2 separate regions of the Homo sapiens genome follow, and region 2 is linked to region 1. Evidence: fine-mapped expression QTL. Tissue or cell type: ovary. Region 1 holds a variant in brackets; the other region holds the start of a gene. All regions are shown on one strand. Distances are from middle to middle.

Region 1 (8,111 bases):
ATTAGTCTGACCTCACACTGCTATAAAGAACTACCTGAGAGGTGGCTGGCAAGATGACCAAATAGGAAAAGCTCCAGTCTGCAGCTCCCAACTAGATCAAAGCAGAAGTCAGGTAATTTCTGTATTTCCAACTGAGGTACCTAGCTCATCATATTGGGACTGGTTAGACAGTGGGTGCAGCCCATGGAGGGCAAGCCAAAGCAGGGTGGGGCGTTGCCTCACGTGGGAAGTGCAAGGGGTCAGGGAACTCCTTCCCCTAGCCAAGGGAAGCTCTGAGGGACTGTGCCATGAGGAATGGTACATTCTGGCCCAGATACTAGGCTTTTCCCATGGTCTTTGCAACCTGCAGAACAGGAGATTCCCTCGAGTGGCTACACCACCAGGGCCCTGGGTTTCAAGCACGAAACTGGGAGACTGGGCAGACACTGAGCTAGCTACAGGAGTTTTTTTTAATACCCCAGTGGCGCCTGGAATGCCAGTTAGACAGAACCATTCACTCCCCTAGAAAGAGGGCTGAAGCCAGGGAGCCAAGTGGTCTAGCTCAGCAGATCCCACACTCACAGATCCCAGCAAGCTAAAATCTACTGGCTTGAAATTCTTGCTGCCAGCAGAGCAGTCTGAAGTTGACCTGGGATGCTTGAGCTTGGTAGGGGGAGGGGTGTCTGCCTTTACTGGGGCTGGTATAGATGGTTTTCCCCTCACAGTGTAAACAAAGCCACCTGGAAGTTTGAACTGGGCAGAGCCCACCGCAGCTTGGCAAAGCTGCTGCAGCCAGACTGCCTCTCTAGATTCCTTCTTTCTGGGCAGGGCATCTCTGAAAGAAAGACAGCGGCCCCAGTCAGGGGCTTATAGATAAAACTCCCATCTCCCTGAGACAGAGCACCTGGGGGAAGGGGCAGCAGTGAGTGCCGCTTCAGCAGACTTAAACACTCCTGCTTCTCAGCTCTGAAGAGAGCAGTGGATCTCCCAGCACAGAGTTTGAGCTCTGCTAAGGGACAGACTGCCTCCTCAAGTGGGTCCCTGATCCCCATGCCTCCTGACTGGGAGACACCTCCCAGTAGGGGTCAACAGACACCTCATACAGGAGAGCTCCGACTGGCATCTGGTGGGTGCCCCTCTGGGACAAAGCTTCCAGAGGAAGGTACAAGCAGGAATCTTTGCTGTTCTGCAGTCTCCGCTGGTGATACCCAGGCAAACAGGGTGTGGAGTGGACCTTGAGCAAACTCCAGCTGACCTGCAGCTGAGGGGCCTGACTGTTAGAAGAAAAACTAACAAACAGAAAGGAATAACATCAACATCAACAAAAAGGATGTCCACAGCCAAACCCCATCTGAAGGTCACCAACATCAAAGACCAAAGGTAGGTAAATCCACGAAGATGAGGGAAAATCCAGCACAAAAGGATGAAAATTGCAAAAACCAGAATGCCTCTTCTCCTCCAAAGGATCACAACTCCTCACCAACAAGGGAACAAAACTGGAGAACAAGTTTGACGAATTGACATAGTAGGCTTCAGAAGGTGGGTAATAACAAACTTCTCTGAGCTAAAGGAGCATATTCTAACCCAATGCAAGGAAGCTAAGAACCTTGCAAAAAGGTTAGAGGAATTGCTAACTAGAATAACCAATTTAGAGAAGAACATAAATGACCTGATGGAGCTGAAAAACACAGCACAAGCACTTCATGAAGCATACACAAGAAACAATAGCTGAATCAGTCAAGCAAAAGAAAGGATATCAGAGATTGAAGATCAACTTAATGAAAGAAAGCGTGAAAACAAGATCAGAGGAAAAAGAATAAAAAGGCACAAACAAAGCCTCCAAGAAATATGAGACTATGTGAAAAGACCAAACCTACGTTTGATTGGTGTACCTGAAAGTGACGGGGAAGATGGAACCAAGTTGGAAAACACTCTTCAGGATATTATCCAGAAGAACTTCCCCTACCTAGCAAGACAGGCCAACATTCAAATTCAGGAAATACAGAGAACACCACAAAGATACTCCTCAAGAAAAACAACCCAAAGACACATAATCATCAAATTCACCAAGGTTGAAATGAAGGAAAAAATGTTAAGGGCAGCCAGAGAGAAAGGTCAGGTTACACACAAAGGGAAGCCCAATAGACTAACAGCAGATCTCTCTGCAGAAACCCTACAAGCCAGAAGAGAGTGGGGGCCAATATTCAACATTCTTAAAGAAAATAATTTTCAACCCAGAATTTCATATCCAGCCAAACTAAGCGTCATAAGCAAAGGAGAAATACAATCCTTTACAGACAAGCAAATGCTGAGAGATTTTTTTCACCACCTGGCCTGCCTTACAAGAGCTCCTGAAAGAAGCACTAAATATGGAAAGGAAAAACCGGTACCAGCCACTGCAAAAACATATCAAATTGTAAAAAACATTGAAAGGATGAAGAAACTGCATCAACTAATGAGCAAAATAACCAGCTAGCATCATAATGACAGGATCAAATTCACACATAACAATATTAATGTTAAAAGTAAATGGGCTAAATGCCCCAATTAAAAGACACAGGCTGGCAAATTGGACAGAGTCAAGACCCATCGATGTGCTGTATTCAGGAGACCCATCTCACATGAAAAGACACAGATAGGCTCAAAATAAAGGGATGGAGGGAAATTTACCAAGCAAATGGAAAGTAAAAAAAAAGCAGGGGTTGCAATCCTAGTCTCTGATAAAAGGACTTTAAACAAACAAAGATCAAAAAAGACAAAGAACGGCACACATAATGTTAAAGGAATCAATGCAACAAGAAGAGCTAACTATCCTAAATATATATGCACCCAATACAGGGGCACCCAGATTCATAAAGCAAGTTCTTAGAGACCTACAAAGAAACTTAGACTCCCACACAATAGTTGTGGGAGACTTTAACACCCCCTGTCAATATTAGACAGATCAATGAGACAGAAAATTAACAAAGATATTCAGGACTTGAACTCAGCTCTGGACCAAGGAGACCTAATAGACACCTACAGAACTCTCCACCCCAAATCAACAGAATATACATTTTTCTCAGCACCACATTGCACTTATTCTAAAATTGATCACATAATTGGAAGTAAAACACTCCTCAGCAAATTCAAAAGAATGGAAGTCATAACAAACTGTCTCTCAGACCACAGTGCAACCAAATTAGAACTCAGGATTAAGAAACTCACTCAAAACTGCACAACTACATGGAAACTGAACAACCTGCTGCTAAGTGACTACTGGGTAAATAACAAAATTAAGGCAGAAATAAAGAAGTTCTTTGAAACCAGTGAGAACAAAGACACAACATACCAGAATCTCTGGGACTCAGTTAAAGCAGTGTTTAGAGGGAAATTTATAGCACCAAATGCCCATGGGAGAAACTGGGAAATATCTAAAATCAACACCCTAACATCACAATTAAAAGAACTAGAGAAGCAAGAGCAAACAAATTCGAAAACTAGCAGAAGACAAGAAATAACTAAGATGAGCGCAGAACTGAAGGAGATAGAGACACGAAAAACCCTTCAAAAAATCAATGAATCCAGAAGCTGGTTTTTTGAAAAGATTAACAAAATTGACCACTAGCCAGACTAATAAAGAAGAAAAGAGAGAAGAATCAAATAGACACAATAAAAAAAGATAAAGGGGAGATCACAATTGATCTCACAGAAATACAAACTACCATCAGAGAATACTATAAACACCTCTATGCAAATAAACTAGAAAATCTATAAGAAATTGATAAATTCCTGGACACATACAACCTCCCAATACTAAAGCAGGAAGAAGTCAAATCCTTGCATAGACCAATAACAAGTTCTGAAATTGAGGCAGTAATTAATAGCCTACCAATCAAAAAAGCCAAGGAACAGACGGATTCACAGCCGAATTCTACCACATATAAAAAGAGTTGCTTCTGAAAGTATTCCAAACTGAAATTATTCCTTCTGAAACTATTCCAAACAATGGAAAAAGAAAGACTCATTCCTAACTCATTTTATGAGGCCACCATTATTCTGATACCAAAACCCAGCAGAGACACAACAAAAAAAGAAAATTTCAGGCCAATATCCCTGATGAACGTTGATGTGAAAATCCTCAAAAAACAACAACAAAAAATACTGGCAAACCGAATCCAGCAGCACATCAAAAAGCTTATCCACCACAATCAAGTTGGCTTCATCCTTGGGATGCAAGGCTGGTTCAACATATGCAAATCAATAAACGTAATCTATCACATAAACAGAATCAATGACAAAAACCACATGATTATCTCAATAGATGCAGAAAAGGCCTTCAATAAAATTCAACACCTCTTCATGCTAAAAACTCCCAATAACCTAGGTATTGATGGAACATATCTCAAATTAATAAGAGCTATTTATGACAAACCCATAGCCAATATCACACTGAATGGACAAAAGCTGAAAGTATTCCTTTTGAGAACTGGTACAAGACAAGGATGCCCTCTCTCACCACTCCTATTCAACATAGTACTGGAAGTTCTGGCCAGGGCAATCAGGCAAGAGAAAGAAATAAAGGGTATTCAAATAGGAAGAGAGGAAGTCAAATTGTCACTGTTTGCAGATGACATGATTGTATATTTAGACAACCCCATTGTCTCAGCCCAAAATCTCATTAAGCTGATGAGCAACTTCAGCAAAGTCTCAGGATACAAAATCAATGTGCAAAAATCACAAG[C/T]ATTCCTATATGCCAATAATAGACAAGCAGAGAGCCAAATCACGAGTGAACTTCCATTCACAATTGCTACAAAGAGAATAAAATACCTTGGAATACAACTTACAAGGGATGTGAAGGAACTCTTCAAGGAGAACTACAAACCACTGCTCAATGAAATAAGAGAGGACACAAACAAATGGAAAGACATTCCATGCTCATGGATAAGAAGAATCAATATCATGAAAATGGCCATACTGGCCAAAGTAATTTATAGATTCTATGCTATCCCCATCAAGCTACCATTGATTTTCTTCACAGAATTATTAAAAACTACTTTAAATTTCATATGAAACCAAAAAAGAGCCCATATATCCAAGACAATTCTAAGCAAAAAAGAACAAAGCTGGAGGTATCATCCTACCTGACGTCAAACTATACTACAAAACAAGTTTGGCTATAGTAACCAAAACAGCATGGTACTGGTACCAAAACAGATATATAGACCAATGGAACAGAACAGAGGCCTCAGAAATAATGCCACACATCTACAACCATCTGATCTTTTGTCTGATCAAACCTGAAAAAAACAATCAATGGGGAAAGGATTCTCTATTTAATAAATGGTGCTGGGAAAACTGGCTAGCCATATGCAGAAAACTGAAACTGGACCCCTTTCTTACACCTTATGTAAAAATTAGCACAAGATGGATTAAACACCTAAATGTAAGACCTAAAACCATAAAAACCCTAGAAGAAAACCTAGGCAATACCATTCAGGACATAGGCATGGGCAAGACTTCATGACTAAAACACCAAAAGCAATGGCAACAAAAGCCAAAATTGACAAATGCAATCTAAGTAAACTAAAGAGCTTCTGCACAGCAAGAGAAACTATCATCAGAGTGAACAGATAACTTACAGAATGGGAGAAAATTTTGCAATCTATCCATCTGAAAAAGGGCTAATATCCAGAATCTACAAGAAACTTAAACAAATTTACAGGAGAAAAACACCCCCCTCCAAAATTGGGCAAAGGATATGAACAGACACTTCTCAAAAGAAGACATTTATGTGGCCAACAAACATATGAAAAAAAGCTCATCATCACTGATCATTAGAAAAATGCAAATCAAAACCACAATGAGATACCATCTCACTCCAGTTAGAATGACAATCATCAAAAAGGAAACAACAGATGCTGGAGTAGATGTGGAGAAATAGGAACGCTTTTACACTGTTTGTGGGAGTGTAAATTAGTTCAGCCATTGTGGAAGACAGTATGGTGATTCCTCAAGGATCTAGAACCAGAAATACCATTTGACCCAGCAATCCCATTACTGGGTATATACCCAAAGGATTATAAATCATTCTACTATAAAACACGTGCACATGTATGTTTATTGCAGCACTATTCACAATAGCAAAGACTTGGAACCAACCCAAATGCCCATCAATGACAGACTGGATAAATAAAATGTGGCACATATACACCATGGAATACTATGCAGCCATAATAAAGAATGAGTTAATGTCCTTTGCAGGGACGTGGATGAAGCTGGAAGCCATCATTCTCAGCATACTAACACAGGAACAGAAAATCGAACACCACATGTTCTCTCTCATAAGTGGGAGTTAAACAATGAGAACACATGGACACAGGGAGGGGAATATCACACACTGGGGACTATCAGGGGGTGGGGGGCTACGGGAGGGATAGCATTAGGAGAAATACCTAATGTCGTTACAGGTTGATGGGTGCAGCAAACCATCATGGCACGTGTATACTTGCATAACAAACCTGCATGTTCTGCACATCTATCCCAGAACTTAAAGTATATATATATCCACCATGGCAAGGTATGCTTGCTTCCCCTTCACTTTCCTCCAGATTATAAGTTTCCTGAGGCCTCTCAGCCATGCTTCCAGTATATCTTGCAGAACTGTGTGTCAATTAAGCCTCTTTTCTTTATGAATTATCCAATCTCAGGTAGTTCTTTCTTTAAATATATATATATAAAGATATATATAAATATAAATATATATTATATATTATATATAAAGATATATATAAATATAAATATATATTATATATTATATATAAAGATATATATAAATATAAATATATAATACACATATAAATATATATAATATATATAAATATACATAATTTATGCATATATTTAAAGAAATATATAAATATATATATTTAAAGTATATATAATATATATGTATATGTATATGTATATAATATATATTTATATTTTTATATATATAATATATATTTATATTTTTTATATATAATATATATATATATTTATATATATATATTTAAAGAAAGAACTACCTGAGATTAGATAATTCATAAAGAAAAGAGGCTTAATTGACACACAGTTCTGCAAGACATACTGGAAGCATGGCTGAGAGGCCTCAGGAAACTTATAATCTGGAGGAAAGTGAAGGGGAAGCAAGCATACCTTACCATGGTGGATCAAGAGAGAGAAAGAGAAGGGGGACGTACTCTACACTGTTAAACAACCAGATCTCATGAGAACTCTATCATGAGACAGTACTGGGGGATAATGCTAAACCATTAGAAACCACTCCCATAATTCATTCAGCTCCCACCAGGTTCCTACCCCAACACTGGGGATTATAATTCAACATGAGATTTAGATGGAGACACAGAACCAACCATATCATTTTGCCCCTGGCCCCTCCCAAATCTCATGTTTTTCTCACATTTCAAAACACTAATGCCTTTCTAATTGTCACCCAAAGTCTTAACTCATTCCAGCATTAACTCCAAAGTCCAAGTTAAAAGTCCCTGAGACAAGGCAAGCTGCTTCCACCTGTGAGTCTGTGAAATCCAAAACAAGTTTGTTACTTCCCAGATACAACAGGGGTACAGGCATTGGGTAAATGCTCCCATTCCAAAAAAGAGATATTGGCCAAAATAAAGGGTCTACAGGCCCCATGCAGTTCCAAAACCCAACAAGGCAGTCATTATATCTTAAAGCTCTAAAATAATCTCCTTTGAATCCATGTCTCACATCCAGGCCACACTGGTGCAAGGGGTAGCCTCCCACTGCCATGGGCAGCTTTTGGGCAGCCATGGGCTCTGGAAGGTATGCCCCTGAAGCTGCTTTCACAGGCTGGTATTGAGTGACTGTGACTTTTCCAGGTACACGGAGCAAGCAGTCTGTGGATCTACCATTCTGAGGTCTGGAGGATGGTGGCTGTCTTTTCACAGCTCCACTAGGCAGTGCACCAGTGGGGACTGTGCAGGCTTCAACTTCACATTTCCCCTCTGCACTGCCCTAGTAGAGGTTCTCCACGAGGGCTCTGCCCCAGCAGCAGACTTCCACATAGACATCCAGGCATTTCCTTACATCCTCTGAAGTCTAGGTGGAGGCTCCCAAACCTCAACTCT
Region 2 (8,090 bases), 660 kb after region 1:
CTAAAAAGGGTAAGTTTTATAGTATGTAAATTATACCTCAAGAAAGTGCTCATAGAAAGACAGAGAAGGGAATCTTGAGGGGAAACAGAAGAGGCTTGGTTGAGAGGATGGATACAGGAGTCATAATGTGCAAATAATAAAAGTTTCTGAAAGAAAGATGACTACTAAACTAATAACATTATAAAGTCCCTCAAGCTAAAGAAATTTCTCCAAGCTTGAGTCTGCAGGTGAAAACTGCCTATAAAATTATGGGTTACAAGGGTGAGAAAAGATATCTGGCAAATGCCATGAACTCAAGAATAAAGAGAAAAACCTTAGATGCTTCCAGAAAAAAACAAGTTACTTAGGAAAAAAAAAAAAGAGAGGTAGGCATAGGCCTTTATATCCACAACATGGCAAAAGAAGATAGTGAAAGAGCATTCATAAATTTTTGAGAGAAAAGGACTGCCACCCAAGAATTCTATCCCAACAAAGAGTAAAAGGAAAGTATTTTGGCGTATGTTATCACTCATTTATCCAATTGAGAGAAACGGCCAAAAAAAATAAATGAATAACAACTGAATCATAGTAGAGATAGAGGAGGAAAAGAGAAGACCTTATGACATATGTAATTAAATCTAACTAGGGAATAGTAAAGAAATTGGACAGAGATATATGATAAAAAAAAATTCAGTGCATTAGAATTAAAATAAAGCATCTAAACAAAAGGAATATTAAAATCAGACCAGTGTACAGTAGTATCTTTATCTGCAGTTTCATCTCCGCAGTTTCAGTTACCCTTGGTCAATCATGGTTCAAAATATTAAAAGGGAAATTCCAGAAACAAACAATTGGTAAGTTTTAAACTGTGTACTGTCTGAGTAGTGTGAAGAAATTTCTCACCATCCTGCTCCATCCCACCCAAGACATAAATCATCACTTTGTCCAGCACATCCACCACTTTGTCCAGCACATCCACCACTTTGTCCAGCATATCCACACTGTGTATACTACCTGACCGTTAGCCATCAACATCATCTGCTCCTGATATCCAATCATCAACATCATCGTGGCTTGATGATCCAGAATCACCAGAAGCAGATGCTCCTCCTTCTGAAGTATTGTCAGAAGGTTAATAGTAGCCTAACACTACATCACAACACCTACATTCTTCACCTCACTCGCTCTCATCACATAGACATTTTATCTCTCACATCATCGCAGGAGGAAGGGTACAATATAATATTTTGAGAGCGAGAGAGACCACTTTCACAAAACTTTTATTACTTTATTACTTCTATTGTTATAATTGTTCTATTTTATTATTAATTATTGTTAATCTCTTACTGTGCCTAATTTATAAATTACACTTTATCACAGGTATTTATGTATAGGAAAAAACATAGTATTAATATAGAAAGGGTTCAGTACTATCCATGGTTTTAGGCATCCACTGGGAGTCCTGGAATGTATCCCCTGGGATAAGGGGAGATGCCTGTACAAGGAAACTGCAAGTGACTATTTCCAACAGCTTTTTTGTTTGTTAGTTTTTACCTGGTTTGCAAGATGAGAGTGACCAAACAGCTTGTGACCCAATTTCCCGTACTGTTCCAGTCCTTTCCAACTGCTTGGGGTCAGCACCAGGAGGTGTCTTGTTTGGTGTAGTCATTTTTAAAATATTCTATGTAGAAAACAAGAATGCACACATTGTATCAGGAACTGGGCATCTTTCTACAAAAGTTTTTTACCAAGAAAAATTTAATGGAACTCATATACCCTGACATTAATCATTTATTCTGAAGAATGCAGTTAATATAATTAAATCACTGTAATTTAAATCTTAGGGGCTGGGCATGGTGGCTCACACCTGTAATCCCAACACTTTGGGAGGCTGAGACAGGAGGATCATGTGAGCCCAGGAGTTCAAGACCAGCCTGGACAACATGGCAAGACCCCATCTCTATTTTTAAATAAATAAAAATCTTAGGAATTCAGGTTTTGTTTCATATGACCAGATATGCAAAGCAGTGAGCTATAGTAGTCAAAAGAGCACAGAATCAAAGTTTTGGCTTCAGTATCTCCTTTAATCAGCCTAGACTTTGAGTAGGTCTGGGCTTTATTTCCTCTCCTGTTAAAGAGGTTCACTTGATGATTTTTACTTCTACAATGCTATGCAGTTCTATAATTCTGTGCCTGAAAATTCAAATGACTTTTAGCCCTAGAAAAGTCAGACTGAAATACTTTTATTCTAGGAATATATAAATATTGATCCTCATTTTATTTACTTAATTCCTTTTTTTTTAGAGACAGGATCTAGCTATGTTACCCAGGCTGGTCTTGAACACCTTGCTTCAAGCGATCCTCCCACCTCAGCCTCCCAAGTAGCTGGGATTACAGGTGTGATCCCATCACCCCACTAAGATCCTCATTTTAAATATTCATTGAGTGATGCAGAGAACAGTCATACCTGCCCTCTAGCTGTCAAAAGTTTTATTTAAGACCCAGCCCGGTGGCTCACACCTGTAATCCCAGCAGTTTGGGAGGCCAAGGCAGGTGGATTGCTTGAGCCCAGGAGTTCGAGACCAGCCTGGAATATGGTGAAACCCTGTCTCTAAAAAAATTCCAAAAAATCAGCCTGGTGTGGCGGCACACACCTGTAGTCCCAGGGGGGCTGAGACAGGAGGATCACCTGAACTGGGAGGCGGAGGTTGCAGTGAGCCGAGATCGTGCTACTGCACTCCAGCCTGCGTAACAGAGCAAGACACTGTCCCAAAAAGCACAAAAATAAGAAAAAAATGTTAAAAGTTCACTTACATATGCTCTTACCATAGAAGATAAGGTCAGGAAAATGGCTTCAAGATTTTGAAGTGAATAACTGGCCCATTCTAAAAAGGTTGACCTCATCTTTCACATCTTTTGTTAATTTTACTAAGTCTATTCATATGTGAAAAAACACTTCAATACTGGATCGTGAACAATATGTAAAACTGCTTTGGTAGCGCAGTTACTGCTACTGAACATTGTTATATATGCTATTCAAAATAGGTGCAATAGTTCTGCATACCGTTTCCTTGACACCTCCCATTGTATCCGAAGTTGTTCTTTAATCGGCACACAAGCACTTGATACTTACTAAATAACGGCAGACACAACGGACTGTAAACTTTGGCAAGGCCTGAGGCTTAAACGCTCAATAAGTAATTTACTGAATGAATAAACAGATGAATAGGTTCAGTTATGAACTAGTTGTCACTTGCCTGCAAGTTAGGTGAGATCTAGGGCGAGACTATTCAACCTGCAACCATCATTACTAACTGAATGTCCTGTTACCTAAAAAAAGATAGAAATAAAGCCCATCTTTAGGGCAGAATTCAACTGCCGGACTTGGGACTGGACGCCACCAAGTGGATAAAATATGGAGCTCGGAAAAGATTGGATTCCCGGCCCTGAACTGACCACACAGTTGAGAGGAAGTTGAGGCCTAGAAGAGCGCGCAACAGTAAGCCGTGTCGGCACCAGACTCTGTTGGTCCTACTGACACCTCCAGCGTTAGAATGACTAAGGCTCCACTCCTGACCCACCGGCCTTGAGGAAAGCGCAAACGTAAAAAAAGATTGAAACCGGAGAGGCGAATGCATCTGTTTACGCTAGGACCACGCTCGACGTCGGAGAAAAGCCCACACACTCACAGTTTCCAGACCTGGCTGCTTGCCGAAACTCAGATTCTCGGCACCTCCAGCAGCTGGCTTCGCCAACGGCGTTGAACAAGGGTCGCAGCTCAATGACGTCATATCTCCCTACCTACCTCCAGGGTTCCGCCTCACGCTCTATGTCGCGCGCGCGCACTACGTCCTATGGCTTGCGCGTGCGGCGGCTGGGCACCGCCATTTTGGCCGGTGGCCGTGAGAACACGCTGTGTGGCTGAAAAGTGAAGGCAAGAGCTGATTTGGCCTCTGTGCTCCCCTCCGCAAGGGGATCGTTTTCTCCAGGTACGTGAATAGCCCGGAGAGGTTTGGCCGTTAGCTGCCATCTGCCAGGTTGGAAAGAATGTAGGGACGTTCTCCGAGAGCCTTTGGTTAGGCCTTAGGTGGCGGAGACAGCAGCAGCGCGTGGCAGCGGTTCCTGCGGGACAGCTGGAACTGATGGAGCGCGGGCGACGCCGAGAGCTTGGGGGCGCCTCGGTCTTCCCCTCCAGCCGACCCGGCTGTCGCCGCTGTTGCCTGCCACACCCGCGAGGGACTTCGAGAATGGACCTAGATGCCGTAGTCTCCACTCCCCCTTTACCCCACTCCCGCCCTGAAGCTAAACCTGCTGGAGAGGAAGGCACCTTTAGAACTTACAGCACTCTCTAGTACCCCCACACTCCTCCAGCACCCAAAATGGATATATTGTCACATGTGCATATTTGGTTGTGGGAAGTCGTGGCTTCCACGTTTTGTTGAGTGGAATGAGTCATGGCATCTTGCCGCCATGAAGTCGAATACTCGCTGTCCACTCCCAGGCTTTATAGAAATGATGCCCACATGTCACTCTGCTTTTCTCAGAACAGCGTGTACGCAGCTATGACTGGGGTTGTCCCAAGTAGTTTCCCAGTAGAAATCCTATAGTTTTTTTGGTACGCTTTTGTAGCACTAGGCACTTTCTCCCCTTACCCGTTTTTCCTTTTATTGTATCTAATACTCATTGAGATCAAGGTTGATGTCTTTACTCAGAATACCTTTATTATCTCTTCAGGGCTTCGTACATTGTAGGCATTTAATACGTATTGTGAATGAATGACAGCCAAAGCCGAATTCCCACCTCCCATTAACTACATAAGCTTATTTTCTCTTTTTTGATGGTAAAAATCTATAAGAGGAAGAACTGTCCAAATAACATGTTTTATTTTTTTACTCTTTCCCAACAGGACTGCTAACTAGTCATTTATGATAGTGGCATTTATGTTGCAGTAGTTTGTCCCATATTCTGAGAATATTCATTGTATACCAGCCACCTGACACTAATACTTTGTTAGTGTAACCAAAGGCTCAGAACCTGTATTTGAACCAAAAGCTGTTTGGGGTTTGTGAGCTTTTTGAGAACTTAGTTCTCCCCTATTTTAAAAAAGGGAGTTTTTTTGTTTGTTTGTTTGTTGGAAGAGCATCTAACAATTGGGAGAGAGGGGGAGAAAACAATATTAAGTTAGAGTTCTTCTAAATGTCTTAAACTTAAAACTCTTTGAAATCAGAGCCGTGTACCACTCCTAACTTCTACGTGTTTTGTAAGACTAATAAACTACAATAAGCATGGGTTAGACTATTTCATGTGATACTAAACATCATTAGTTAACAGCAGTCTTTGAAATGCTTTTACACAGCGTTACAATTATTTTGGCTTTAGACTGTAAATGCTTCTAAGTATTCCTCACTTCCTTTTTTCCTCTCAGCTGTAAGAATGACACTGAGGGTCATTGTTCTAGTGTCAATTTTGAACACTTTTGTCTTCGAATCTGAAATATCCGCAAATCCTTCTTTGTTTGCAGGAGCCTGTTAACTATAATCTTCCTCTCCAAGCTTTACTGTGCCTAGGTTTTCTATTGAAAAACAAGTAGGGAATCCCCTTGCCCCAATTATTGAAACTGATACAGAAATTGAATTAAAAGTGTTCACACAGTTAATTAACAGTTCTACAAAGAATCCATGTTCATTTTTCTTAAATGCATTACAATTTATCACTATTTTTATATAAATCAGTTTATTAACCACTTCTGGTATGTTTTTATTCTACTGTAAAAATCAAGCCAGGGTAGTGACATGCACCTATAGTCCCAGCTATTCGGGAGGCTAAAGCAAGAGGATCCCTTGAGCCCAGGAGTCCCAGTCTGTAGTGTCCTGTGATCACTGCCCTCAGCCAGGACACCATAGCAAGATCCCTGTGTCTTTTTAAAAAATTGTCTTTTACAGTCTTTTGGTTTTTAAAATAGTTTGAAAAATTAAATATTTTAGTAGTTTAACAGAAATAAAGTTTAAGCAATTTCGTGGTGATTTATCCCCTGGAGGGGAATTCATTATGCTCTTTCACTGAGTAATTGTAGAAAGGCATTCAGTATTTAAATTAGAATGCATGGTGTCCAGTTTTAATAGCTTGCTGAAGAATCTTCATTTCCTAGGAAGTTGTCATTTCCCGAATAATAGCTTTTTTGTGACAATTCAAGCCATCTAATTTCTTCCTCTTCTAATCTTTACAAGACCTGGACCAGTTTTTAGAGGAATAGAGTCAACCTGTTTATTGGAATAACCCTGTACTTATTACATGAACATTTAGTCTCCTTTTGAATGATTTTTTTTTTCAGTATGTAGTTTAGTGGACAACTGTCACTATAAAATATTGGTAACTTGCAAGATTTCTAAAGTTGTTATAACCTACAGGAAAATTATTTACTATATTTAAATTCATATTCTCATTCATTTAGCAGAAATGCTTGATCTCCTGTGTGCTAGGCACAGGTTCAGCCACTGGAATGAACAAAAATTCCTACCCTCATGATGGATGGAGTACATTCTACTTGGGGAGGGGAAAAATGTGTATGTGTTTGTAGAGAGACAATATACATACACACACCCACGATAGATGTGTGCATATACACCAGATATATATAAAAAAAATATATATATGGAATATATAGTATGTCATATAGTTGAGCTAGGGAGAAAAATAAAGCAAGAAAGAAGGATGAAGAGGCAGTTGGGTGTATTTTTCGGTAGTGTATATTGTGGTAGTGTAGTTACAAAAGGCTCACTGAGAAATAGTAAAGATTGAAAGGAGTAAGCCATGTAACTCTCTAGGGGGAATAGCATTACAGGCAGAAAGTGCCAAGATCTTGAAGCAAGAACATGCCTGGCATGTGCTAGGAACAACAAAGAGCCAATGTAGCTGGAGCCATACAAGAGCTAGAGTAGTTGGAGATGAGATCAGAAAGTTAACAGAGGCTGATCAATGCCTCATTGATTATTTTCAGGACTTTGGCATTTACTCAGATTGAGAATGAAGCCATTGCAGGATTTTAAATAGAGGAGTGACATGATCTAGCTTACTCTTTAAAAGGCTTCCTATGGTTCCTGTGTTGAGAATGAACTGTTGAGGGTTAGAGTAGAAAGAGGTGAGGGTAAAAGCAAAGAGATCTGTTAGGAAGCTATTTGAGTGATGCTGGTAAGAGATGATAGTGATAGCTTACACCAAACTCATGAGATCAGATTCTGGATGTTTTATAGCTTCAGTGGGATTTGCTGTTATTAGGTGGAAAAGAAAATGACTTCAAGGATTTGGGCCTGAGCAAATGGAAGACTGGAGTTGCCATCTAACAAAATGGGCAAGACTGCTGAAATTTTGGTGAGGATATCAGGAGCTTAGTTGGGAGATTCCTCTTAAGCCTTCCAGAGATGTTAGGTGGGCAGGAAGGGTTCAAGAGAGGTATGCTGACTAAAGATAGAAATTTGGAAATTTGCAGTATATAAATGGAATTTAAACCTGTGAGACCAGAATAGAACAACTTGGGGAATGAGTATATGTGGAAAAAAATGACCAAGTCTTAGAGCACTCTGCATTTAGAAGCCTGGGAGATGAAGATGAGTGACCAGGAAAACAGTAGAAAAACCAGATTAGTGTTGTATCCTAAAACCAAGTTAAGAAAGGGTTTTTATCTAGTAGGAAAAGTGTTTATTTGTGTCAGATGCAATTGATTGGTCAGGTGAATTAAGGTCTGATAACCATTTGTTTTAGCCATGTGAAGAACAATGATGGCTCGAAAAGTTTTGATTAAATGATGGGCTCTAGAGCCTAGAATGGATTCCAGAGAGCATGTAGCAAGAAATTTGAGACATTGAGTATAAGCAACTCTTTGAAGTAGTCTTGAAGAAGGAAAAATAAAACAATGGGAGACGATGGGGTCAGATAATAGAATGCCTGAATGCTGATAAGAATGAGCCAGTGGAGAGAATAATTGATGAAGTTAAAGACAGAAGGGAGAATTGTTGGGACATTCTTATGGAATGTCTTCTAGTGTACAAATGGTCTTAGCCAGGGAAATACATACAGTGTCATTGCTGGTTGGCATAAGGGTCCATTTGAGATGA

Direction of the effects. Positions count from the first base shown, and alleles are read on the strand shown. Sizes are in standard deviations (SD) of each study's normalised expression.
For the expression in ovary of the gene that starts at base 3,860 in region 2, allele C in region 1 goes with a higher level than allele T (moderate effect, 0.54 SD a copy in GTEx).

What was found. PIP is the estimated chance that this variant, and not a neighbour inherited with it, causes the effect.
Region 2: it holds the start of ABCE1, and the variant in region 1 is fine-mapped to the expression of ABCE1 in ovary (GTEx, PIP above 0.99).

The regions. Positions count from the first base shown.
Region 1 is chr4:144,434,591-144,442,701 of GRCh38, forward strand. The region is part of intron 1 of LOC105377462 (a long non-coding RNA gene); the gene reads right to left. Among named protein-coding and RNA genes, the nearest start is that of HHIP-AS1, 210 kb to the right of the region's middle. The variant C/T (reference allele first, on the strand shown) is at 4,703.
Region 2 is chr4:145,094,452-145,102,541 of GRCh38, forward strand. ABCE1 (ATP binding cassette subfamily E member 1) reads left to right here and starts at 3,860. Exons shown (of 18, transcript NM_002940.3): 1 at 3,860-3,968. ANAPC10 (anaphase promoting complex subunit 10) reads right to left here and starts at 3,745. Exons shown (of 5, transcript NM_001256706.2): 1 at 3,669-3,745; 2 at 1,534-1,660. The coding sequence starts at 1,648. RefSeq lists enhancers at 3,000-3,871, 3,119-4,318, 3,452-3,501, 3,582-3,841, 3,872-4,743 and 1 more.